Linked DNA regions of Homo sapiens: all the other regions are linked to region 1. The links come from fine-mapping of genetic effects on gene expression. A gene starts in region 1. Each other region holds a variant in brackets. All regions are shown on one strand. Distances are from middle to middle.

Region 1 (8,272 bases):
TTGACAAAGGATGCTAGAGATTGGAGTTGTTGGTTGGGGAAGGCTGGGAGTCCCTGAGTCTTTGGAAAACAGATGTTAGGTCTACACTTTCATTCTGGCTCATAAGCCAGGAGCCCAAACGAAAGCCAGGAGAGTAAGTGGTCGTTGGTGTCCCAAGACTTTCCTTCTTGTTTTTAATGGTTCTGGGAAATACCAAAGTAATTCTACTTCTAGGGATGCTCTTCTTGGGTCACATATTAGCCATCCCCAATGGGTATATTTGTTAGGATCAAGTCCACACTCCTTAGGATGGTGGATGAGGGCACTGCCCAGGTGGACCTAGCCTCTCACCTGGCCTGCCACTCCTCCCTGTGCTCCAGGTTTGAGGAATTGCATGCTAGTCCCTGTGGGTACCACATTCCCACCCATTTGTTCCAATGGGAAGGACTTTGTTTATCCTCTTTCCAGAATTCCTATTCATCCTTTAAGGATTGAATTTAAAAATCAAGAAAGTGATAATTATTTGTTTACTTCACCTTCCTATCTTATATTATTTCCTCCCAGGTAGAAATATTCTATGTATGTCTGAATTTTTTCTAGTAAAAACATATGAACAGACACTTTTGAGTAAACGAATGCTTTATTTGATGACCCTAAGAGCTAAATTATTTGTTTTCCTTGCTTCACAGAATGCTAATTTCACCTTAGGTGAAAAAAAGATTTTTGCCTAGGAGGTTGAGAAAGACAACTTTTACAAATATTGATACAGGCCCACTGTCCCTTCTGTCTCCTGAGCCCCCAGTGAGTCTCCTGCTGGCTAAGGTCTAGATACTCACTAGAAATCATTTTTTGGGAAATGTGTAGATGGATGGGACAGATGAGATTCTTTCAAAAACTATTGGTATGTCACAATTTTAAATGACAATCAGGATCTTTCTCTGGAAAAGTTTAGAAAGAAAATGGTGTCTCTGAAAACTTTACTTTTCTTCTTTTCAATTTCCAGAACTCCTCTTCCTTTCCTTCCATTTGCCTGGGCACAAACATAACTTAGGCCTTATGTAGATGCCTGCAGTTTTGGTCTAAGTCCTGCTGACTGGTGTCCAGAAAACTGTGAGGGGCAAACATCCTTTTTATTTAGCATTTTCTCTTCTTAACCTTCTACCCTTGGCCTCTTCCTTGCCCAGTGAGGTGAAGTGGTTGACTGTGGAGCCACTCCTGCTAACTGGAAGGAACTGGGCGTTGCCAGGCACTAAGCCAGGAACTTGAACTCAGCTGAGAAGTGGGATCTGGATAACTCCTGCCCCTCAGAGCAAGGCTGGCAACCAGCTCATGGGTGTTTGGCTACCTGGGGGAGGGATTTCTGCTCCTGACAACAGGCAGTTTGTTCAGTTCTTCCTGCCCTGATTCTTCTCCTGTTGCTTTTCACTGCATCCCTGAGCTCTTTGGTAACTCTACCTCTCACCAGTTTTTGCAATTTGCTGTAGACTTCAAAATCCTGGCTCTACCTCTCCTTCCTCTGTAGCTGTATTTCCCTGCAAAGTTGGAAGCCAACCAAGATCAAGTTTCCTTAACTCTTTTTCTTTCAGGGTCCTGGAGCTGAACTCTTCTGACCTACATACCAGAAAGGCTGTATCTTATCCTTCCTCACCAACATCTGAAAGGTTCCCCCAGCAGACTGATTTTAGGTCCCTTTCTGAACTAGAATCTGACAAAGACGCCACACAGTTTTCAGAAACTCTCACCATGCAACAGATTTTCACTAGCACACAGCTGGTCTGCATTTGGGGCCACCTCTGCTTTCTGAGTTCCAACACAATGGATTTTTGTGGTTGTCTACCTGTTTTTGCTCCATGCCCATGTCATCTTTCTCCTGTTGCTTTCTGTTTTCTGCACTTCTGCATTCTCCTCTCTTTTGGTAGAATTTTCTCTTTTCTTCCCTCTTTATGATGTTTTATTTTTTTCTACTCAGCCTGCCGCCTTCTCTTGTTCCTGCCACCCTTTCTGCTCTGGATTCAGCTAGAAGATTTTATGAGTGACTGAAGAGTTTCTAGACTGCTAATCCAGGGATAAACGCAATCTGTCTTTTTTCAGGGTTAGATTCCCAGCCCAGCCTACTTCTTAACTGCATGTGTAATCTTCATCCCCCTCCTACCGATGTTTCTGTGCCGCTTCATTAATCTGTAAAGATGACCCACCCTCTTTCCAGACAAGGAGGCATCTTTTCTCGTTTAGATTCCTCAGCTCTTTAGACTTCTCAGTCATTTAGCTATTCAAAAAATGACAGATGAAATCCGAGGCACAACAAAGTTATCATGAAAACCTTTTCCTTGAGAGCCCCATGTCTGATTGTTCATATTAGCTGTTATTTGGTGGAAAGAACGCTAGATTTTTAAGAAAAGTTCTGGTTTTGCCACATGGTAGCTGTGCAACCTTGGGCAAATCATTTACCTTCCTCGGGTTCTTAGCGTCCTCACTGGTAGAATGGGAATGCTTCACAAGGGCGTTAATGGAGATGAAACAATCAGCAGGAGAGCACTTTGTAGATTGCACTCGGATGGCAGGGTGAATGAGCAGGGATGGTGTCCTCATTTGTTTTTAAAGTCTTCAAAGGTAAAGGATTGTTAAGCATGGAGATTTGATTTGTTGTTTCTGCCAGGTCTCCTGGAAAGCTACAAACTAGAAGAAGTGCAGGAATCCTTGTGGTAACAGGGGTATCAGCTTTTTGTCCACAGAGGGTCCTAAGGAATTCCGACTCCCGTTTTGAAATTGTATCGAATCCAGTCCCAAGTGAATGTGGCCCTGGGGTGGTGCTTTGAGAAGTGGAATCACTGCAGGACAGTTTCAACATTCACTTCCCAGGCAAGCCTAAAGCCTGTTTTAAAAGGGCGTGTGGGGGCCAAACCCATAACAGTCTGGGACATTTCAGACTGGCACCACCTCCTCTGGCTGTTTCCGAGGCCATCTAGAGGCCAGAGCCCAGTCAGATTAACTGAAAGTAAAGAGAGGACTGCGGGAGTTTGGGACCTTTGTGCAGACGTGCTCATGCTCGTTCGTGTAGAGGGCGGGAGAGAGGAAAGGAAGGAGGGCATTGGGAGCTGAGGCCCCACCTTTCATTTCAGAAAAGTGCACAGGCAGAGCGGGCTGAGTCACAGGCACAGGTGAGGAACTCAACTCAAACTCCTCTCTCTGGGAAAACGCGGTGCTTGCTCCTCCCGGAGTGGCCTTGGCAGGGTGTTGGAGCCCTCGGTCTGCCCCGTCCGGTCTCTGGGGCCAAGGCTGGGTTTCCCTCATGTATGGCAAGAGCTCTACTCGTGCGGTGCTTCTTCTCCTTGGCATACAGCTCACAGGTAAGAGCCGGCGGGCTTCTCTCAGAGTTTCCTCCTTCACTGCTCACTCTATAAAGTTAGCTAATTGTCTTAGAAGTTGCAAGACTTTTGTTTGGGAGCCTGAGCCACAGATACAGTTTGTTTTACTTTGGGTTTTACTGAAACCAAAGTTGGTGGACTGTTTTTGGAGAACTGCTCTCGGACAAACAGGTTTAGGTGTGTTCAGCTGCCAGTGATTCAGGCACAGAGAGGGCTTTCTAATCTCAGGTTACATGCCATTTTTTTGTGTGTGGCTGTTCTCAACCTCCCACTGCTGGCAGGACTTGGCATTTGGATTTCTGTGTGTGGGTCTTGTCTGTGACTCTCAGCAACACCAGGAAAGTGGAGATTGTTAGAGAGAGACCTACTGTGATTTTGAAAGTGCCCCAACACACACATTCTAAATGTAAATATCAAGTTTAAAAAAATGCCACGTGGTACAAAGGTTCTAGGGGTGCAGGCAAACATAAGCTGTCTGGAGTTGATTAATTCAGTTTCTGCAATAGACTAGTAACAGTATGAAATCCACCTAAGGACCCATCTGGAAAACTTACCTGCTAGGAGACCACTTTACATACAACACATAATGCTTAACCTTAATACATAATGTAATGTCTAATCAATGTTATGATTCATTTTAATTTTTTGTTTATGCTTTCAATTCTATTTGCGGATGTTTGTAGTTTGTTATAACAGTTTTGAAGTCAGTACCACGAGGCGAGGCTTTAATGCTGTGGAGAAAGTAAAAGCACTGCGAAGGCTTGCTGTGTGGTAGTTTAGTTGTCACATGGAATGGGAGGGTCCAGGCTGCATACAGGTAGGAGTATGTAGATTCTGGGTGAAGTAAGTTTGGGAGATGGGGCATCTCAGTTTCACTTTACTTTAAGTCCTACTCAGATATTTATTTTGGAAGTGTCAGCAGAAGTTCTCACAATACTACATCCCCTGTTAACCCTTCTTTTTCTTCTTTTTCATTGCAGCTCTTTGGCCTATAGCAGCTGTGGAAATTTATACCTCCCGGGTGCTGGAGGCTGTTAATGGGACAGATGCTCGGTTAAAATGCACTTTCTCCAGCTTTGCCCCTGTGGGTGATGCTCTAACAGTGACCTGGAATTTTCGTCCTCTAGACGGGGGACCTGAGCAGTTTGTAAGTAGATTATCATCATTTTCCAGGGTACTCTTGTTTAGGGAAATAATAAGCCAGTCCATTTCTCCTTTCCCTTCCAGTATTTTTCTTAGCAGCAAGCACAAGGTTAAGCTCGGAAACAATTCTTGGGACAGAGACTGAGAGGCCGTTGAAGGGGAAAGCAAGTGACAGAGCTGCAGACAGGACAGTTGGGTTTGCTGGTGTTTCACTTCCGCTCCCACCATCTTGGCCTCCTTGCCTGGGTGCTGAGTAAGAAGACCTTTTGCCATTTCCCCTCTCTAGGTATTCTACTACCACATAGATCCCTTCCAACCCATGAGTGGGCGGTTTAAGGACCGGGTGTCTTGGGATGGGAATCCTGAGCGGTACGATGCCTCCATCCTTCTCTGGAAACTGCAGTTCGACGACAATGGGACATACACCTGCCAGGTGAAGAACCCACCTGATGTTGATGGGGTGATAGGGGAGATCCGGCTCAGCGTCGTGCACACTGGTAGGTTATGCAGGGAACAGTGGTTTTGGAAAGGATGAGAGCTTGTAGAAAAGAAAGGGGCAATCTTTGTTAAGGCTGAGAGAGAGGGACAATCTTTTGTGATGGATAGAGAGAGGGACTAGCCCTTCAGAACTGGGAGCCTCAGAGGGAGACCGAAGAGTTCTGGGGTAAAAAGAGAAAGGCTTTGTTTGGCTGTGGAAAGAAACAGAAAGTAAAGCAAAGGAACTCAGAGAATCCGTTACAAAAATGGCATTGAGATTGTGAAAGGGAGAGGGAGCAATTCTTTGATGAAAGGCTTACAACAGGTCTGTTCACTCACTCATTTATTCGAGATACTTATTGAGTACCTACTCTAATGCTAGGCACCGTCAAAAGTGCATGACATACACTATCTCATTGAATCCCCACACCACTCTAGGAGGCAGGTACTAATGATGGGAGCTAACACTTACTGAGTACTTCCCAAATGTCAGGGGCTTTACATGACACATTTTATTTAATCTTTACATATCTCATCAGTTTATTGTGCATTTAATGCCTCCCATCTTGCCAATGAGGAAACGAGGCTCACAGAGGTTAAGTCATTTGCCCTGAGTCACGTAGCTGATAAATGGAGTAACTTAGGACTCAAACCCAATCAACTTTGAATCTAAAACTGTGCTCTAAATTGGTGCATTGTATTGTCTGCATCCCTATAAAGGACAATCTGGAAAACCATGCCAAGCAACAAAGAGCAAAGTACACGAAACTTATGAATTGTAGATCTGGGTTTGAGTCATTGCTACCATTTACCAGCTATCAATAAGTCTTATTTTCCTCATCTGTAAAGTGAGAATAACACAGTAAGGATCACAGTGAGGATAAAATGAGATAATAAATGTGAATATGTCCCAACCTCTGAATTGTACTTAACAGCTACCATACATTGAGTGTTTATTTTGTACAGGCACAGCAAGGAACAACTTACATGAATTATTTTATTTTTTATTAAGAACTCAAGAAATGAATATCATTATCTCTGTTTATACATGAGGAAACTGAGGCTCAAAGAAGTTAATTACTTCAAATCACACAGCTAAGTATTTCAACCTAGTGCTCTCTGGTGTGTGCTCTTAACCAACACTACTCCAAACATATAAGCCTGTGCAGTGGTACGATTTCCTTTCATTCATAGTACAGTTTAAAACCATTTCTCAATGCCCCACCAATAGAGGGCTGTGTGACCTTGCAGAAGTCATTTGAGTATTGAAAGAAATAATGTAATGGTTTTGGACCTCAGTTTCTTCATCTGCACAATGAAGAGGTTAAACACACAAAAAATCAGTGGTTCTTAAATATATGTGGATAATTATTCTTTGAGAATCAAATAAAAGCCATGGCCCTGCTTCCCATAAAACAGTGGAGACATACAAAATGAGACTTGGATTCTGTGGGCTTGCAGACTACCTTCCATCCTCTTCCCCATCCTCCTTCATGGAGTCAAGGCTGGGAATCCTGGGCTAGACATTCTCTAATGTCCTTTCTGGCTCTGAGGGCTTATGGAAGTATAATCAGAAATAAAGCTAAAGGACAAGAAAACCAGGGTTCACAGACTCTAGTGTGGCTTAGGGGACCTTCCCTCTGGTTTCCCTTTTCCATCATTTATCCACTAGACTGTAGCTTCTGATTTACTTTCCTATCCTCTCAGTGGCATGAGCTCCTTGAAGGTGATGTCTTTTTTGGCTCAGCATTTCTATCACAGTGCCAGGAATGTAGTAGGCCCTTAATAAATCTGAATAAATAACTGACTGAGTGAAAGTGGTGAGAAGTCAGGGAGAAATGGGTTGGGCACTACGTTTGATGAGGTTAGCAAAAACCTTACCCCATAAGTAGTTCAACCCACCCAGTGGTTTTCAAAGCTGCATCAGAATCACCTGGAGGACCTGTTAAGACACAGATTGCTCAGCCGCACCTCTAGTGTTTCTAATTCAGTAGGTCTGGGGTGGGGCCTAAGATTTCCATGTTCTCAAGTGATATTGTTGCTGTTACTTCGAAGACCACACTTTGAGAACCATTAAAGTATGTGTATGGTTTTCCTATTGCTAGTAGGATTCACAAGGTAATATATTATTTTATGCATAAAGGTAGGATAAAGGAAGATTCCATCTATTGATTAAATGCATCCCTATTATGTCATTAGATTTCATTGTAGTCCTCTTCTTTTTAGAATCCTAATTTAATCTTTTTCTCCTTACAGTACGCTTCTCTGAGATCCACTTCCTGGCTCTGGCCATTGGCTCTGCCTGTGCACTGATGATCATAATAGTAATTGTAGTGGTCCTCTTCCAGCATTACCGGAAAAAGCGATGGGCCGAAAGAGCTCATAAAGTGGTGGAGATAAAATCGTAAGGCTGGGCAGTTCTGGGAAAGTTCTAACACTCTTATGGCGACTCTTGGTATTTTGCAGTGGGCTAAATAGTTGCTGAACAGATGTTTTTCCCTTTAAGTAAATCCTATATAAAAGAATTCACATTTGCAGGACAGATAAATCAGGTATGAACTAGTAACTTTACAAAAGCTTTCTTAATTTTACAAAATATTTCCTTATGGGATTTCTTTACTATGTGGGGGGGTTGATTTTACAAAAATGTGCTATGTAAAGCTTTTCTAAAAAATCCCTTATGTTTAAAGTGAAGCATACATTTGTAAAAACCACTGGGCTAGGCAGTCAGCAGGGCCACTATGAGTCAGGGCTTAGGAAAGTCTGTTGTGCTGATAGCAGGTGTTCATTAAATGTATTTTAAAATTGAGATAAAATTTACCCACCATAAAATTTACCTTTTTCATTTTCACAAAGTTGTGCAGCAATCATCACTAATTGCAGAACGTTTTTAAGCTCCCTCCCGTAAAGAAACCCCATATCCCTAGCTATCACTCCCTATTATCCCCTCCTACCAGCCCCCGACAACTACTCATCTACTTTCTGTCTCTATGGATTTGCTTATTCTGGACATTTCATTTAAATAGAATCATACAATATGTGGTCTTTTATGCCCAGCTTCTTTCACTTAGCATAATGCTTTCAAGGCTCATCCTTGTTGATGTATTAGTATTTCTTTCCTTTTTATGACTGCATAATATTCCATTGTATGAATATACCACATATTGTTTGTCCATTCAATTGATGGGCATTTAGGTTTTTTCTGCTTGTTGGCTGTTGTGACTAATGCTGCTATAAACATTCATTTACAAGCTTTTGTGTAGATCATATGTTTTTAATTCTCCTAAAAGTGGAATTGTTGGGTCTTA
Region 2 (8,000 bases), 210 kb before region 1:
TCCAGGGATGGGGCAGTTGGGCCGAGGTCCAAGTTGGTTTTTTCCAGATTTCCTCTCCCTTTCTTTATAAGTATTTTGGTTTTGACAGCTGTTGTATCCCCAAGAGTCACAGAAGTAATATCAGTCCCAGAATCATGTGATGAAGACTTCTTCCGCCCTGTTGCTTTTTTGGCAGAAGATGAAGTGGCAACATCTTCACCAACAACCTTCTCTTTGGAAACCCTACCCACAGGATACAAAGCAGAACTACTCTGAATTTCTGATCCCTTTTTCCTTTTCTCTTTCCTTGACTCCCGCTTATTCTCCTTTTCTCTCTCCCGGTCTCTCTCTCTACTCTTGTCCTTCTCCACGCTCTTGTCAGCATCTCGATCTTTGGACAGCTCCTCGGGGGCCTTGTCTTTATTTCTCCCTCTTTCAGTCTGAGAGCCTGGGGTAAACCAAGGGAAGAGAGGAGTAGGACTACTTGATGAAAATGGCTCTGCCGGAGCACTAGTCTGCTTCCTTGGTCTCTGATTTTTCTCTGCAGATTCCCCAGACTGAGTCAGGGAATGAGAAGGAAAAGTAAAAGTTGGGTTTAAGGCACTAGTGGCAAGAGGACTAACAGAAATGCTTAACGAGGAAGAGACAGAAGACGGGGGGGTGAGAGGTGAGAGCTCAGAACTACTAAGCCTTCCACTTCTTGTCCTCATGGAGTGAGAAGGAGATCTTGGTTCAGATCGAATAGGACTAAACACTTTTCTTTTCCTTTTTCTATTGGATACTCCTGAAGAAGATGTTCCAGCAGAAGTTCGATTACTAGGCAAGGTTACAGACTCAAATATTCTAGAGTGAGCCTCACTTGGAGTAAATCTTGGAGCTCTCAGAAGAGGGCTCCTTTTGTGCATATCAAACCTTGTTCCAGAATGGAGTGGCGAAAACAATCGGGCTGAAGCAGCGGTACCAGATGCAGAAAAACCAGATGCAAAGCCAACGTCCTCGGGAGTTAGTGGAGGGGGTCGGAAATTATCAAATATTGGTTTGCGAATAAGACCTTCTTTGGCATACTTTGCTGAGGAAAAGTATTGTGGCTCTGACCTAGAATGCTTTAAAGAAGTCCACCTAAATGTCGGTTCTCGCAAAATAGATTTTCGCTTCCCTTGCATAGGAGCAGTGGAAGCAGGCAAAAATGGTGATGCTAAGGGGATTGTTGGAGGCATAAGCCAAGGTGTGTGGTCAGAGATACTGGAGGCTGGCTGCAGTGGTGGCGGTGGAGTCAGCAGAGGTGGAGGTGGAGACGAGGAGGTCTGCTGCTGGGGGGCACTTTGTAGAGTTGATAATTTTTTCGTCGTTCTAGATCCAAAACTTCTCTCCGACACTGAATACCTTCTGCTTCTCCTATCATTACTCTCATTTTCTGGGGACTGGGAAATGGGCAGTGGAGGATGAACTTCAGGGGTATCGCTCCGCTCCTCAGGAAGTACCTGAATCTCCTCAGAAGCCTGAGAGTCTGTGGAGGTATCAACACTGGGGCTACTAGATCGAGAGGAGTCTGAAGACATTTGAGAGGAGTGCTGAGAAGCTGCACTTGATTTTTCAGAAGATCCACAGGACGGGGCACTGAATCTACTATTCGGTGTAGACTCTAATCGGGCAATTTTAATTGGAGGGTCATAATCCTCATCCTCTATAAACCGCCGAGGGGTCTTAATGATCCGCGAGGAGATAGCACTGACAACAGGCATGATGAACTGTCGAATATTTTTGACCTGTGTCTTCACCTTTCTTCCCTGCAGCTGAGCTGCTTCTTTTTCAATTTTCTTTTGAGCCCCCTTTTTTGCCCTCTGTAAGAGTTGCTTAGCAATGGTTGCATCTGTCCTTTTTGAAGAAGGAATAATCCTAACTGGCTTAATCCTTCGAGGGCTTTGTCTGACAACTGTCTTATCTTCTTTTGTAAGTGGAGGTGTTCCTTCCTTGTCTTTCCGGACTTTCTGGGGCTTTTCCAGTTCAGAATTAATGAGGAGACCCGAAGGGGTCTTTATCCTTTCTGTTGATGGAGGCCTTCCTCTCCGTCGTACAATTTGTACCCCCTTCCTTCCTATTTGAAGCTTCCCTGTCTTAAACTTAGACTTGAGAGGAGAGAGTTTACCTGCTCTTAATTTTTTAATCTTTGTGGCTTGCTGAAACGTAGCAGAAGGTGTCCTTTTAATTTTTTTCAGGCTATCTTCTTTGTTTCCCTTTGGTAACTCTGAAATGTCCTTTCCATGTGTTATTTTGATTTTTACTCCAGGGAAGGTGGGAGGTCTTCCTCTCTTCTTTTCTATACTTTTAGAATCTTTCTTCTTGATCTTATCTCCAGATTTGGTCTCTGATTTATTTAGAGGGGAAAACACAGATGGATCTGAGAGGATAGCTGAATTTCGGTCAGAGCCACTTCTAGGTCTCCCACGAGGTTTTCGAGGACTAGTTTTAACTGTGTATAGAAATTAAACAATGAAGAGCATATATTTAGCTGTGTAGTTTAGGTTTTAACTAAGCTGAATATAACTTAGCACTGGCCATTTTGTACTGAGTTCAACTTGAGTCTAATGAGTCAATCAAACATCTTAATTGTGCTTAGTTTCTTTTCACCCAAAATTTGCCTCAAAGAAGTCAGCAAATAACATTCCACCTGAAAGAACATTTAATTACTTTTTTGATACAAAAAGATAATAAAAAGTTTTCAGTTGAACAATTAATCCACAAAACTGATTTTCTTACAATTTTAGATGAGCAAGAAGGTTTTTTCTGAATTCAAAGGAATTGTAAAGAAAAAACATCTGAACTTCCTCGCCATATCCTAGCCACCAAGATTAACATTTAAGAATATGCTTCTAGTTAGTCATCCCATCTTTTCAATTCAGAATTCTGGCTTTGAACAAATTTGAATACGCTGCTCTTCAATCATCAACATACCAACTCCTTGGGCAGCTCAGAGTCCCATATTTCAATCTGTTTTGCCAAAGTAGACTAAGAAAGTTTTACTGAATAGAAAAATGTTCATTTATGACACATCAGAATAAGACCACTGAACTCAGTGGCATGTGAACTAATCAGTGAAGTGACATAATGTGTCCACTAAATCTACTCCCCTGCTTAGAGGTTCTTGAGCTAGTCTCAAGTTGCAAAAAGATTTAACCTTAACTGATGTCAACAGCAAAATGACAACTTATTAAATCAAAGTTCTATTCTAAATAAAAGGAATTTGCCAATTTATAAATAAGCTCAGTTTGCTGCTTTTCAAGCCATTCAAGAAAACAAGACTGTTTCTAAAACACCTTGTATAAACCTGTATTTTAAAAAGTAGTAAGACTAGGCTATTTTATCAAATCTTCTTTTCCCTTTTGATAACATTCTTCTGAGACTAAAACTTCCCTTAATAGGCACCAAAAGAGATGAACATTTTTACAATGGAACTGCTTGCTAACAGAACAGAAGTCAACAAAGGTTTTATTGTTGAGCTTTCTAAATATAAATGCATTCCTCATCAATTAATTTATGAGACTTCCTTTAATAGATTAAGGATTCACAGCTCCTTTCTCAACATATCCTAATTACAACAAAGGTAATAAACTAGGAGACAGCAGAGAAACCATGTCTCATTTCTCAAATAATGAAGCATATCGAGATGGTTTCTTAGAAAACAAGACAACATTC[A/G]AGGTAGACTGGTAGTCATGAAAAAAAACTTAAGAGGAAACTACCATGAAAAAGTTGTGAATTAACAAAATAAAACTCCTGCCCAGAGCCTGGGTGACAGAGTGAGACTCCGTCTCAAAAACAAAAACAAAAACAACAAACAAACAAAACAACTCCTGCCCGGAAATACATCAAAAGATTCCTTACCATTGTGGTAGACTTGAACCTGGCCAATCAGAGGGCTTTATCAATTCTGAAAACCTCTTCTATCCTACTTTTTAAAAAACTCTTTTGGTAGATAAGTAGAAGCAGCAGAACAGAGAAGAGTCCCAGCACTGCTGCTAACTTCCCTGATCCACAACATATCCAAAGAACTCTCAAACTGGTTATAAATCATTACTCATGTATTTCATGGACCTCATTTTTTCATCTATAAACAAACAAACAAAAATCCCAGATGATCTCTCTAATTCCTTTCCTATATGAAGTTTTAAGACTTCATCACATGTTAAAGAGAACACTGCTACTGTCTGAATAGCACAGATACTGGGACACTACTGGCCAACTGCCCCCAACTAGAATGACAATACCACTCCTCTTTAAGAAAAGAAAAACTGTCAACTTGGATGTTTGAATTAGATGATAATATATGATGACTCTTAAGTGAGACCCTAATGCTAGCACACATCACAAGCTAAGTCAATGTCAAAAAGCAGAAACAGCTAACAATATCATATTTAGCTGGAGTGTCTATCCACATAAAATCAAAGAAAACCATATATGAAGTCAGAATGGCAGCACAGATGGGGAATGCATTTTCATCAAAAGATACATAGCTTTCTCCTATACAGAACTGAATTAGGCAAGCCATTAAATGTTATTTCCATTGAGGGTCTTCTCTTAGGAAACTGCTTGTAAGTCTAGAATTTCAAGATATTCTAGATATTTTGTTGGTGAGAATAATGACAAATATTGCTAATTTTCCATTTTTTTATTTTAATACAGCCTTTCAAGAATCAGGTAAAAATGTTTCACATAATGCCAATATTTTGTTTTTGGTTCTTTGACAATAGTGGACCAAATTTCATCCAAAAAAAATAATGGCCAAATTATTCCCAAAGACATATACACTACCACATAACACAAAATGTGTAAATCTGAGGATACTCTTACTAGGTTACCTTCACTTTGCCTACCAGATTTCCCAGTAATTCTGTGGAAACCTACTTCCCATGCCCCAAGTAGTTCCCAGAGAGAAAGAATAAACCCAATGTGGCCTGATAGATAAGAGTCCCATAAAGAAGTCTAGCTGGGGGGAGGGGGGAGGGATAGCATTGGGAGATATACCTAATGCTAGATGACGAGTTAGTGGGTGCAGCGCACCAGCATGGCACATGTATACATATGTAACTAACTTGCACATTGTGCACATGTACCCTAAAACTTAAAGTATAACAATAATAAATAAATAAATAAATAAAAAGAAGTCTAGCTCATCAGCCATTTCCTAACCCAAGTATGGTAGAGCATCCTTTACATGTAAAGAAGGCAAGAGGAAGCCACAATCTCCTAACAAACAAAACTTAAAAGGCACCATGCACTTAATTGGCCGTACCTGAAGGAGACCTTGTGGGACTTCGCACTCTGACTTCTTCATCTGAGCCAAAACCTAAGAATTGCTCATCCTACAACAAAGGAAAATTATTTTAAAATCAGAAGCAAAAACGTGCATACAAACACATCCCAAAGAAATGCCCAGAGGAGACACAAATGAATTTGGAAAAGTTGCCTTTATATATTAATTATCATCATTCCAATGGATACTATAAAATAACTAATATTGAAATAAATGGACCCAGCCATACAGCTTTATTACAGACAAATAGGAGCTGTGTAGTAACTGAACAATGCATTGAAATGTCATCTTTGGTGCATAGTACACAGAGGATAGTCCTAATTTCAAACTATAGATACAGCCCAAAACAATTAAAGGACAACTTTAAATCAGGTAAGCAAATAAGTATAATGGCAGAAACATACAGCCCCAATACAACAAACAAATGCTTTTCAAAAAGTATTTAAGTCTACAGACACATAAGGAGTAATATAAACAATATAATAATCTCTTGCCTTCTAAATATTAATAGAGACTGAAAGTGCCATAATTGTCAGTTCCTTAACTCAGGAATTGACATTTAGATGTGATTTCTGTACATTTGAGATCCAGAGAGTCTCAACATGCATTTTATGGTATAATTTTAAAAATGCCTGTGATAAGAGACTTAATGGTGGGCAGCAGCGTTTGTGAAAGGGATCATGAATTGACTGCATATAGGATGAAATCCTTTACTAAAACTTAGGGAAGCATCCTATTTTCAGTTATAGTTGGAAAGGACAAAAAGCAAAAGCTTCTGCTTACCTCTAATTTTAACCTGCTCTATAAAAAAAAAAAGGATTTGTTTAACCTATTTTGCACAAGTTCTCAAGAAAGATGGTCTATTTAAACAAACTGATTAATAGAAATTCAATGATTCAGAGATTGAGTTCTTTCCAGAGACAGACACAGAATGATAGAATTTCAGATTCCAGAAACAAAATCCACATAAAACAAGAACAAAATAAGGAATGAAGAACAGACATTCTGGAACCTCCAATTTATAGTGGTAAGTCCCAAACTGAGTTCCAATGACAAAAGCATTAACATTTTCCTCTCGAGAGGTAAGAACACATGTATGTGGACAACATCAATGATTTTCTGAAGGATTATTTTCTCAGTTAATTTAAAACTAGAGTCAGGTGCTAACTGTCTTAGCCATTTTTCAGCCATGACTATATTAAAAGACATATATAACTTTTAGGACAAATTAGCAGGTTCATCTCTTAAATTTAAATGCTTTAGAGGAGCAAAACATTTAAGGCCCAGCCTTTGCATACTAGGCAACTGAGAGAAAAGTCTTACTGGCATCTAAAAAGGCTTTTGCTCTGAGATTGCTAAGATTAAAGTATTGGACTATTTAAGAAAAGGCTGAAATTCTCCTCTTCAAAGACATCTGAAAAAGTATTATAATTTTTTTTTTTTTTTTGAGACGGAGTCTTGCTCTGTCACCCAGGCTGGAGTGCAGTGGCGCGATCTCAGCTCACTGCAACCTCCGCCTCCTGGGTTCAAGCGATTCTCTTGCCTCAGCCTCCTGAATAGCTAAGACTAGAGGCCCTTGTCACCATGCTCAGCTCATTTTTGTATTTTTAGTAGAGACAGGGTTTTACCATGTTGGGCAGGTTGGTCTCAAACTCCTGACCTCAAGTGATCTGCCCACCTCGGCCTCCCAAAGTGCTGGGATTACAGGCATGCACCACTGTGCCCAGCCATGAAAAAGTATTATAATTCTAAGAATGTATGAAACCTAAATTTAAGGAACACAGACTACAGTAATTTTTTTTTTAATTACATATTTTGCTCAGGCTGGTCTTTAATTCCTGGTCTCAAGTGATACTCCTGCCTCAGCCTCCTGCATAGCTCGGACTACATACATGCACCACTATGCCTGGCTTACTGGAGTACTTTTTACAGTTTCTTCTTTCATCACTAATTTAAATTCTTACACGTAAGTTCTTTTTTTGTTGGTTTTTTGTTGTTTTTGTTTTGTTTTGTTTTGTTTTTTTTGAGGCAGAGTCTTGCTCTGTCGCCCAGGCTGGAGTACAATGGCGCCACCTCAGCCTCCCAGGTTCAAGAGATTCTCATACCTCACCCTCCCAAGTAGCTGGAATTACAGGCGTGTGCCACCACACCTGGCTAATTTTGTATTTTTAGTAGAGATGGGCTTTTGCAATGTTGGCCAGGCTGGTCTTGAACTCCTGGCCTCAAGTGATCCACCCACCTTGGCTTCCCAAAGTGCTGGGATTTACAGGCGTGAGCCACTGTGCCCAGCCAGTTCTTTTTACTTTAAAAAAATTTTAAGTAAATTCTTACTGTGAACATTATTTGTGAATAAGAAAAATTCTCTCTTGGCCAGCACAGTAGCTCATACCTGTAATCCCAGCGCCTTGAGAGGCCAATATGGGAGGACTGCTTGAGGCCAGGAGTTCAAGGCTAGCCTGGGCAACATAGTGAGTCTTTACAGAAAATTTTAAAATTTGCCAGTGCTCACTCTGTCACTCAGGCTGTACTGCAGTGGTGTGATCACGGCTCACTGCAGCCTCAAACTCCTGGGCTCTAGCAATGCTCCTGCCTTAGCCTCCTGGGCAGCTGGGACTACAGGCATGTACCAGCACTCAGCTAATTTTAAAATTATTTACAGAGACGGGGTCTCACTATGTTGCCCAGGCTGGTCTCAAACTTCTGGGCTCAAGTG
Region 3 (8,272 bases), 100 kb after region 1:
AAAAAAAAAGGCAATTGTGCGGAGCCAACCATCACTGCCATTACACTCACATTCAATGGAAATTGATTAGGCCTGAGAGAAGGAGCAAGAGGCAGAAACACTGACTCTGAGACCATGACCTTGGAAGATCCTCAGAGATCAACTAGCCAAGTCACTCACTTAAAATGGGGAAACTGAGGTTCCAACTGACAGAAACTGAGGGTCCTGCCCTCTTCTCTGGCTCCTCAGTCTCCAGTTTGAAGCAACAGAGCCATCATTTTCCCAGTGGGAGGGGCCTCTGTGTCCTGGTCTATGATGGGGCGAGTTGGAGGGGTGGGCTTCTCTAGCCCTGCCCCCTCCCAGGAGCCCAGCCCCTCTGGCCAGGACTGAGGAGGAGTGGAGGGAAGCAGGGAGGGAGGGAGCAAGTGTGAAGGGCACAGCTGCTGGCAAATGCCCCATTCCCTGCCCCAGCACTTCCCAGCCTTTCCAGGAGCTCTGCCCCACCCCTACTCAAGGAGTCAGGTGCCCAGGGTAGGGAATAAGTCTAGGAAAGGGGGTGGAGACAGGACCGTGACAGTCTCAGGGACCAATCCCTGCCTCTGCCCATCAGATTGCCAATTTGGGGAGACAGCAATATCATCTGGGAGATTCAGCTTAATTTGCTTCAATTCAGCAACCATTTATTGAGCATCTATTATGTGCCAGGCACTGTGCCGGGCACTGGGGATATACACAAAGCCATAAGCACTGGGGACTGCCAGGTTGGCACTGTAGGGACCAAGATTAACTTTTTGGTGCATCTAATTCCACCTCTGCAAGACACTGCTTCCAAGGCTACAGTTGGGGAAGATGAAGAGATTCTAGAATCTGTGCCCTGGGAAGGGAGAAACAGCAGGGAAGAGGGGCAATACAACAGGGTCAAGGGTGCAGAGGCCAGGCAGAGTGGGTGCAGAGTGGGGGATGGGCAACCAGCCTGGTAACACCTGGGTGAGGTGAGCGAGTCAAGCCCATCTGGAAATGCTAAACTCATCAGCTCAGTACCTAACTGCCAATCAACACACTGCCAATGCGGGTGGGCTAAGCCGCCAGGATGCCTGCAGCAGATGGACGCTGCCCATCCTTGAGCCAGCCAGCTGGGGGCAGAGAGGTGGGTGGCGGGCACCTCATGCCAGCTGAGACCAAGAGTGGTTGTATACATTTCTGCAGCTTGCAGATTTCATTTTTTTGGTCACCCTTTAAGTGTCCTTCTCTCCCAGGATGAGTGAGGAGCTGTGCTGATGTTGGGAACTTATCTTTTTCCAGGATCCATAACATTTAGGGGAATTATTTGCGGGCTTTCCTAGTGTATTCTAAGAAGTTCTAACTCTCCATCAAGAAGCCCAAGATTCCTGGAGTCTTTTTTTCCTCTGCCCTGATCAACTGGGGCCCAGGAAAAGCAATGTCTCTTCACGGGCCTCAGGGCCCCAGCAGATGGGGCTGGGTCAGGAACCATCTCTGTCCCAGGTGCTCAGCCCTCATATGCATTTTCTTCTGGAGCCTCTTAGAATCTCCTCCAGAGGACTCATAGAGCTGCCTCCCCCAGGATGGTGAAGTTGGGAGCAAAATGGGGCTTCTGTAAGTAGAGGTGGAAAACCAGAGAGATGTTTCCACAGCAGCCATTTCCCTACCCTGTTTCCTAACTTATGCTGACAAGTTCTTCCTCTTCCTACCGTGGGGTTCGAGCCCCACTTCTGGTTGCATGTTCCCACCACCACGCTCTGCTGGTTTTAGTCGGCTGACTTTCTCAACTGCCCCAGCCTCTCCTGCTCTCTCAGAACCTCCCTCTGCCCCCACCCCCCATCTGTCTCTTCCTCCTAATTAAGGGCCACTGCAAAGAGAGACGGGCTGGCTAACCCATGGGATTTAGCTTATAAGAACAAAGCACAATTATTCAGGACTGAACTGCTTTGAGGTGCCTTGGAACTGGCTTTGGAAATAGCTATCTGCCCCCTAGCTATGGACTCTTCACAGTTATTTCCAGTTTATAAAAAGGAAAAGCTGATCGGATCCATGTTTCTCTCTGCGAGTCTCCTTGGGGAGGTTGGGCTGGTAAATATTTGCAAGGTCAGGTTAAGCAGACAGACAATTGAAAATACTGGGCAGGTCCAAAAGGATAGTTCCAGGCCATAGGAATGGCTTGGTGCAGTTAACGGGTGATGAAGCAAGAAATCTTCCTTCCTACTTATGTCTTAAAGATGGACAGCCTGTGTCTCTTGCTGTGCCTCTTGCTGGCGTCTTCCTTTATTGAAGCTTGCTGATGCACTGTACATAGTCTCTCTCTCTAGGTATAGATATATTATATATACAAATATCAAACATCTCACCACACCCACCCCAAAAGTTACACTGTGTGTGTGTGGGGAGGTGTAATAACTTCTCAGTGTTTTGAGTTGATTCACCAAAGGCAAATTTTGGAATGTTCTTGCGCTTTGTGCACTTGGAGGGGAAAACCCAACTACATATGCACTTTCTTGGTTGTGTGTGCTATAGAGAGGTTGGAAGGGGTGGTTGGAAGGGGAGAGAAACTGAGATGGCCCTCTGTGACTCGACTGCTGGGATGTATCTGCTTTTGGGAGCAGACTGAGTTTCTTTTGCAATTTGTCTTATTGTTTGGGTCTACTGGCAACAATAAACTATCTCCCCTGAAAATCCCTCGAGTGTGGCTTTATTCAGGGGTTCAGGGCAGGGTAGGCTGATGCTTCACCAGGATCTTAACTGGAACCCTAGGTGCTCCTTTCCTGGTAATCCCATTGGCGCTGCCAGATCTCCAGCATCTGAGGGCCTCAATGCCCCTGCCTCACAAGGGGAAGGTTGTCTACCCCACACTTGTGCCCCCACAGATGTTTCATCCCTTTGCCTTCCCCAACCCCCTGGGGACTCCGCTCACCCTGGAACAGAGTGGCTGAACACCTACTTCTTGGAGGGCTCTCGATTATTTTGGGGATGAAGACAACCCCGGAAGCTCCCAAGGCTGACTGTCATGCGGATGTTGCCTGTCCTTTGCATGGGCAGACAGGCCATCCTTCCTGCTCTGTTCCCCAAAGGTGTTGGATTAGACATTTCTTTTGCCTCCTCTGGACTCAGAAAGAATAGATGACAGCTGGTCAGAGTCTGCCCTCATGCAGTTCATGGAGAAGGGTGGCTGTGGGAAGGTTCAGGTGGCTCATGTCCCATCTACATACTGCTGGATCCTATATATATGTGCCAAAGCAGCCCTAAGAAGTTTAGGACCAAGGGCAACCTCCTGGCTAGGGGCTCCACTGTCCCAGACAGGCCTTTTTTTCTCCCTTGCTCTTCATTCTTCCGTCTCTTTGCATTTCTCCCTCTCTCCCTTGCACCGCTCTCTCTCTCTCTCTCTCTCTCTCTCTGTCTGTCTGTCTCTCTCTCTCTTGCCTAGGAGGCTTACCAGGCTTACCTTCCTCTTCCTACTCTGGGGTTCGAGCCCCACTTCTGGCTGCATGCTCCGGCCACCACGCTCTGGTGGTTTCAGTCTGCTGACTTTCTCAACTGCTCCAGCCTCTCCTGCTCTCTCAGAACCTCACCCTGCCACCACCCCCATCTGTGTCTTCCTCCTAACTAAGGACCACTGCAAAGAGAGACGGGCTGGCTAACCCTTTTCAGCAAGAAAAACCTCAACTTGCTGAATGGCAAGGACATACTTAGGTAGTTGGTTCCTACTTTTCTCTTGGTTTCTGTCTCATTCCTGTCTGCTCCCTGGAGACCCAGAGACCCTCA[C/T]CAGTGGTTAGTAGTTAGGAATACGCCAAGAGGACCTTGATATTTGTGGTTCTAATGGCTTAAAGGATGACAGCTGCCACTTGGGAGAGAAGTCAGACTGGAGGTGGCAGTGTTAAACAAAGGTGGCTGGTATTCAACAGAGCCAAAGTTCCCTTGGTTTAAAAGGATGTCTATCCCTGGAGCCTGAGTCCTGCCAAGAATGGGGTATTGCGGGGGGATGCTTCTCTACTTAACAGATAGGAACATTTGGGCGAGGGACACGGACTGAGCAGCAGAAGGCACCAGGGATTCTGGCTGGTTCCTTCCAGGATGGACACAGGCCCCTGATATTCAGCCAGGCCAGCAGCATCTTCCTCACTGGGCTTCTCCCCCAAACACTTGGTTTTGGGGACCAGGTGGCAAAGGGATTAAGGAACAGTTTGCCCCAACAGATTGAGAGTTCTTCCTACGGTCAAAGAAAAGGGAGCAAGGCCCTGGGGAAGAGGGTCTTGGTAGTCACGAACTGGGCCTGGTTTCTGGGAAGGCTGGATTTGGTTCAGGCATCTCCCCTAAATTTGGGTTCTATGGCCCAGCCTGCCTGGGGCGGGGTGGATGAATTTCGATTGCAGAACAAGCTGCCTTGGTGGGGGAAGGGATAGTTGCCACCCTGGTGCTCAAAATTATTGGTCTCCTGTGCCCCTCAATTGAGGTGGAGGTACCTGTACAAGAGCTTCCCAGTTCCCACTGGACACCCCATGCATGGGGTATCCCAGTGGGATAGCCATCGGCCTGCCCATGGATGGTTGCTAGGGAATAGGAATCTGGGCCAAAAGGATTAGGGGTGACGGAGTAGACCTTTACAACAGCAGAGATGGGAGGGCCCCCAGGAATACCTGTCAAGGCCCCTCGTTGTTCTAAAGGGGAAACTGAAGACCAGAACAGAGAAGTGACATGCTTAAGGCGACATGATGAGTCAAGTACAGACAGAGTCTGGCAGGCTCCAAGTCCGCTATTCTTCCTGCAGTCCACAGGTGCTGGGTCTAGTGCTTGACACAGCAGCATGCACCAGCCCAGACCCCTCCCCTTCCCTCCCCAGCTTGGCCTGAGTTGGTGCAGAAGAGGCACTCATGCTTCCTTAAGGGCCCAGTTTTCAAAGCTGAGGTTCAGAGAGGGAACGTGATTTGCCCAAAGTCATACAGTTGGCTAATGACAGAGCCTGGGATAGAACCCAAGTCTCTCTTCCCCCAGTCAAGGCCTTCCCTAGGCTGAGCTGATGTCCCTGGGCAAATAGGCTCATGTCCTTTGGCACTAGTTCCCAGAGTCCTGTTCCCACCCCCCATCAGCATGATGTGACTCATGTCAGTTTGCATATGGGCCCCTCTTAGGCTACTTATCTCCCTCCCATCTTGCAAGGGTGGAACGTAGTATCAAATCATCTTCAGGTGACAGCAGCCTGGGATAGTGTCTGATGGGTGCAGGCTGGGCAACTGGACACAGAACTGGACACAGAACAACTGGCAGGTCCCTACTAGGTCTCCTGGCCTTCTTCATTGGTTCTTTGGGGGCTCAGAAGGTCCGCACGGGAAGGGCTCTGCAGGAACTCTTCTCAGAAAGTCCTGGTAGCACTGCTGCCCCCGACTCTTCCTACAGAATCACACCCCAAAACCCACCATGTTTTAGTCACTCCTGGCTGCCTGCTACCAAGCTGATGTCCAGAGTGCCAGCTACTCCTTAGGACAGGCTCCAGCAGCCCAGTGGATGAGGGCTCCGGAGGGCCTGGGGAAGGAAGCCCCGCTGAGAACCACATCCTGGCATCCTGACACGGCACATGGATGTCGTGGGGGGCGGTCAGTGGAGCCTAGCCTAGGAGAAAAGGGAGCAAGGCCCTGGGGAAGAGGTGATGGGAATAGATGAGTTGGGATGGGGGAGTCGGTGGCCTGGTATGGCAACTTTGTCTTTTCTCTGGCAATAATGACCTTCAGGTCTAGGAGGTGCTGGGGAAGGAAGGGCAAGTGGGTGCCAGGCATTCAGCTTGGCTACTTTGGATCCCATGGGAGGGGCTTTCCCCTATGGCCCTGGCAAAGTCACCTCTATCCCAACCACAGTTGCCTCTGCTTCTCAAGTGGGACACATTCCCAGTAAACACGTGGCAAAGGGACTAGGAACGGTTAGCCCCAACAGATTCAGAGTTCTTCCTGTGGGCAAATGGGCAGAAGAGTAGGGTGTGTTCAGCCAGGAGGGGAAGTTGACCGATAGCGTGGCTGTTGACCGATAGAGTGGCCCAGGCTGTAGCCTCAGGGACAGGGATTAGACTTGTCCCATTCTGTCCCAAGGCAAGACATTAGGACTGGCAGGGAGAGACAGATATTCATCCAGTGTAAATCAGAGCTGTGCAGAGGGTCGAGTTTTTGAGGTAATGAAATCCCCATCCCAGAAGGTATTTAAGCATAACTTAGGGGTGTTGTTGAGAAAGTTCCTATATCAGGGCATACTTTTAGATAGCCTTTAAGTCTACTGATAATGGCCCTCTGCAGTCTTCTTTTTAGGACTCAAATCATAGAAGTGGGATAAAAGTCTTGCTTGCCTGAAGATAAGTATAACACATACACCGGCAAACATGCACACGTGTCTGGCCCTCTGCTTTCTTACTCAGTTGTGGTCTTCCCCAGGTCCCCTCTATACCCCTGTACCGCTTTACCTGGTTCTTCTGTATCTGATCTATCAGTGGTGGGGACGTGGGGGGTGTGGGTGAACCTCTATGTACAGTGAGAAATACGCTGGGAGAGGGTGGGAAATTTGAAGACAGGTGACCTTGGGGAGCTTCTTTCCAAAGATGAGGCCAAGTCTAGCTTGCCTTCCTAGGCCCACCAGCCAGGTCAGAAACTCCTGTCTTTCCAGTCAAGACTGTAGATGGAAGATACAAGTCCTCCCTGCCTCCCTATCCCTGAGTGCTCCCAGCTTTGCCAAATCTGTCAACATCTCCCTCAACTCCCCCCATAGCTTGCTCATACCCGTGCAGGCTGTCCACTGGAGCTGAGCCTGCTGGAAGGGCTAAGGGGTGGATTTCATGGCCATCTTGAACTTGAAGGGCATTGAAGGAGGAAGGTATGGGACTCTTGGCTAGATCAATAAGAAGAGCCACTGTTTACTGAGTACCTACTCTGTGCCTGGTGCTGATCTAGGTATTTGATGTATATCAGCTTACTTCATCCTTAGGGCAAGGCCCCGTCCAAATGCATTCTTTTCTCATTTTTACACATGAGGAAACAAAGTTCTGCAGTATTATAAGTATGTGTACAAACAAGGTGGCACAGCTAGGAAACAGCAGAGCCAAATTCACACTCAAGGCCTGATGAACCAAAGCCATTACATGACACCAGGAGAAAGGACAGTGAACTGGGCTCTCGCAGACCGAACACTTGTGGGTGAGGGAAGGGTGGCTTGGAACCAACCCTAAAATGACCATGGACAACAGCATAAGGGCAAAAGTGTGAGCAGAGGCCACGCTTTCCCGGCGGGCCCCTCCTGCCCACCCCTACATGGCCTGGCCCTTGGCCCCACAGCTCTGTGCAAACAGCTGCAGCATCTGCTGGCCACCTTCTCCTCCCCTGGCTTCTCGCTCCACTCCCTTCCTGCCAAAAGCCTGTGTATCCTCTGCTTCACCTACTAAACAATTGTCTCCCTGTCCCCACCCGTCCCCTTCAGCCTGAGCCACATTCCAACTTTAAGTTGCCCTCGACTCAGGAAGACTCTCCTCTGCTCCCAGGCCTCCTCTCTTCCTCTCCTCTGCCCCCCACCTTCTCTGCCGCATTTCCTCTCCAGGTCCACATCCTCCCTCTCCCCTCACTTTGCAAGACCCACTGCTCCCACATTAAAATGCTCCTAATGCATGAAACCAGAGCATCTGGGGAGTCCTGCCGGGTACTCCGCGCTGTGCTGTGCTTCTGGCTTGGCCAGTCTGTCTCAGGTGCCCATTTCAAAGCCAGGCCAGGAGGGCATCTGACTATTCAGCTGACAAGGCAGTCCTGTGAGCGGCAGGCTGCAATGAATGACAAACCTTCCCAAAGCCTCCAGTTCCCAGCCCTCCTGAGCCACCATCCTCCCTTGATGGGCAGGCAGGGGGCCATGGTGATCCATGAAGCAGAGAGAGAAATATAGCTCTGGGGTGCTGGGTAGGGTGGTTGACACCCTGTCCGGGGGCTTCAAACCCCACCCCAATGTGGCCTATAGTAAAGAGATGTCCAGGACTCACCCCATCTCGGAGCTACTGCAAGGGCAGCACATACCTTCTCCCGGAAGTGGGCACACACCCTCTCCAGCTCGGGACTGGCCGGTGAGCATCCCTCTGGTCAGGATATTTCGGCTCCCTCCTCCCTCTGCCCTCCTCCTTCCAATGAGCTCATCTGTCTGGGGCTCCCTACCCATCTCAGCCTGAAAGGATGTTTGGACAGAACCTGGCAGAAAACAGAAACAGAGGAAGGGAGGGATTGAGGAGGTGGCTGCCTACCTGCCTCTGCCCAGAGCCCCTAGAAAGCAGAGA

Evidence for each region.
Region 2: its variant is fine-mapped to the expression of MPZL2 in whole blood (Lepik 2017, PIP 0.95).
Region 3: its variant is fine-mapped to the expression of MPZL2 in whole blood (INTERVAL, PIP above 0.99).

The regions. Positions count from the first base shown.
Region 1 is chr11:118,259,150-118,267,421 of GRCh38, reverse strand. It overlaps MPZL2 (myelin protein zero like 2), which reads left to right and starts at 3,125. Exons shown (of 6, transcript NM_005797.4): 1 at 3,125-3,326; 2 at 4,325-4,491; 3 at 4,774-4,984; 4 at 7,221-7,368. The coding sequence starts at 3,269. RefSeq lists an enhancer at 3,324-3,373.
Region 2 is chr11:118,466,111-118,474,110 of GRCh38, reverse strand. KMT2A (lysine methyltransferase 2A) reads right to left here. Exons shown (of 36, transcript NM_001197104.2): 2 at 5,267-5,336; 3 at 1-2,449. Among named protein-coding and RNA genes, the nearest start is that of KMT2A, 34 kb to the right of the region's middle. The variant A/G (reference allele first, on the strand shown) is at 3,673.
Region 3 is chr11:118,157,201-118,165,472 of GRCh38, reverse strand. SCN2B (sodium voltage-gated channel beta subunit 2) reads left to right here. Exons shown (of 4, transcript NM_004588.5): 4 at 1-2,667. Among named protein-coding and RNA genes, the nearest start is that of SCN4B, 8.5 kb to the right of the region's middle. The variant C/T (reference allele first, on the strand shown) is at 3,754.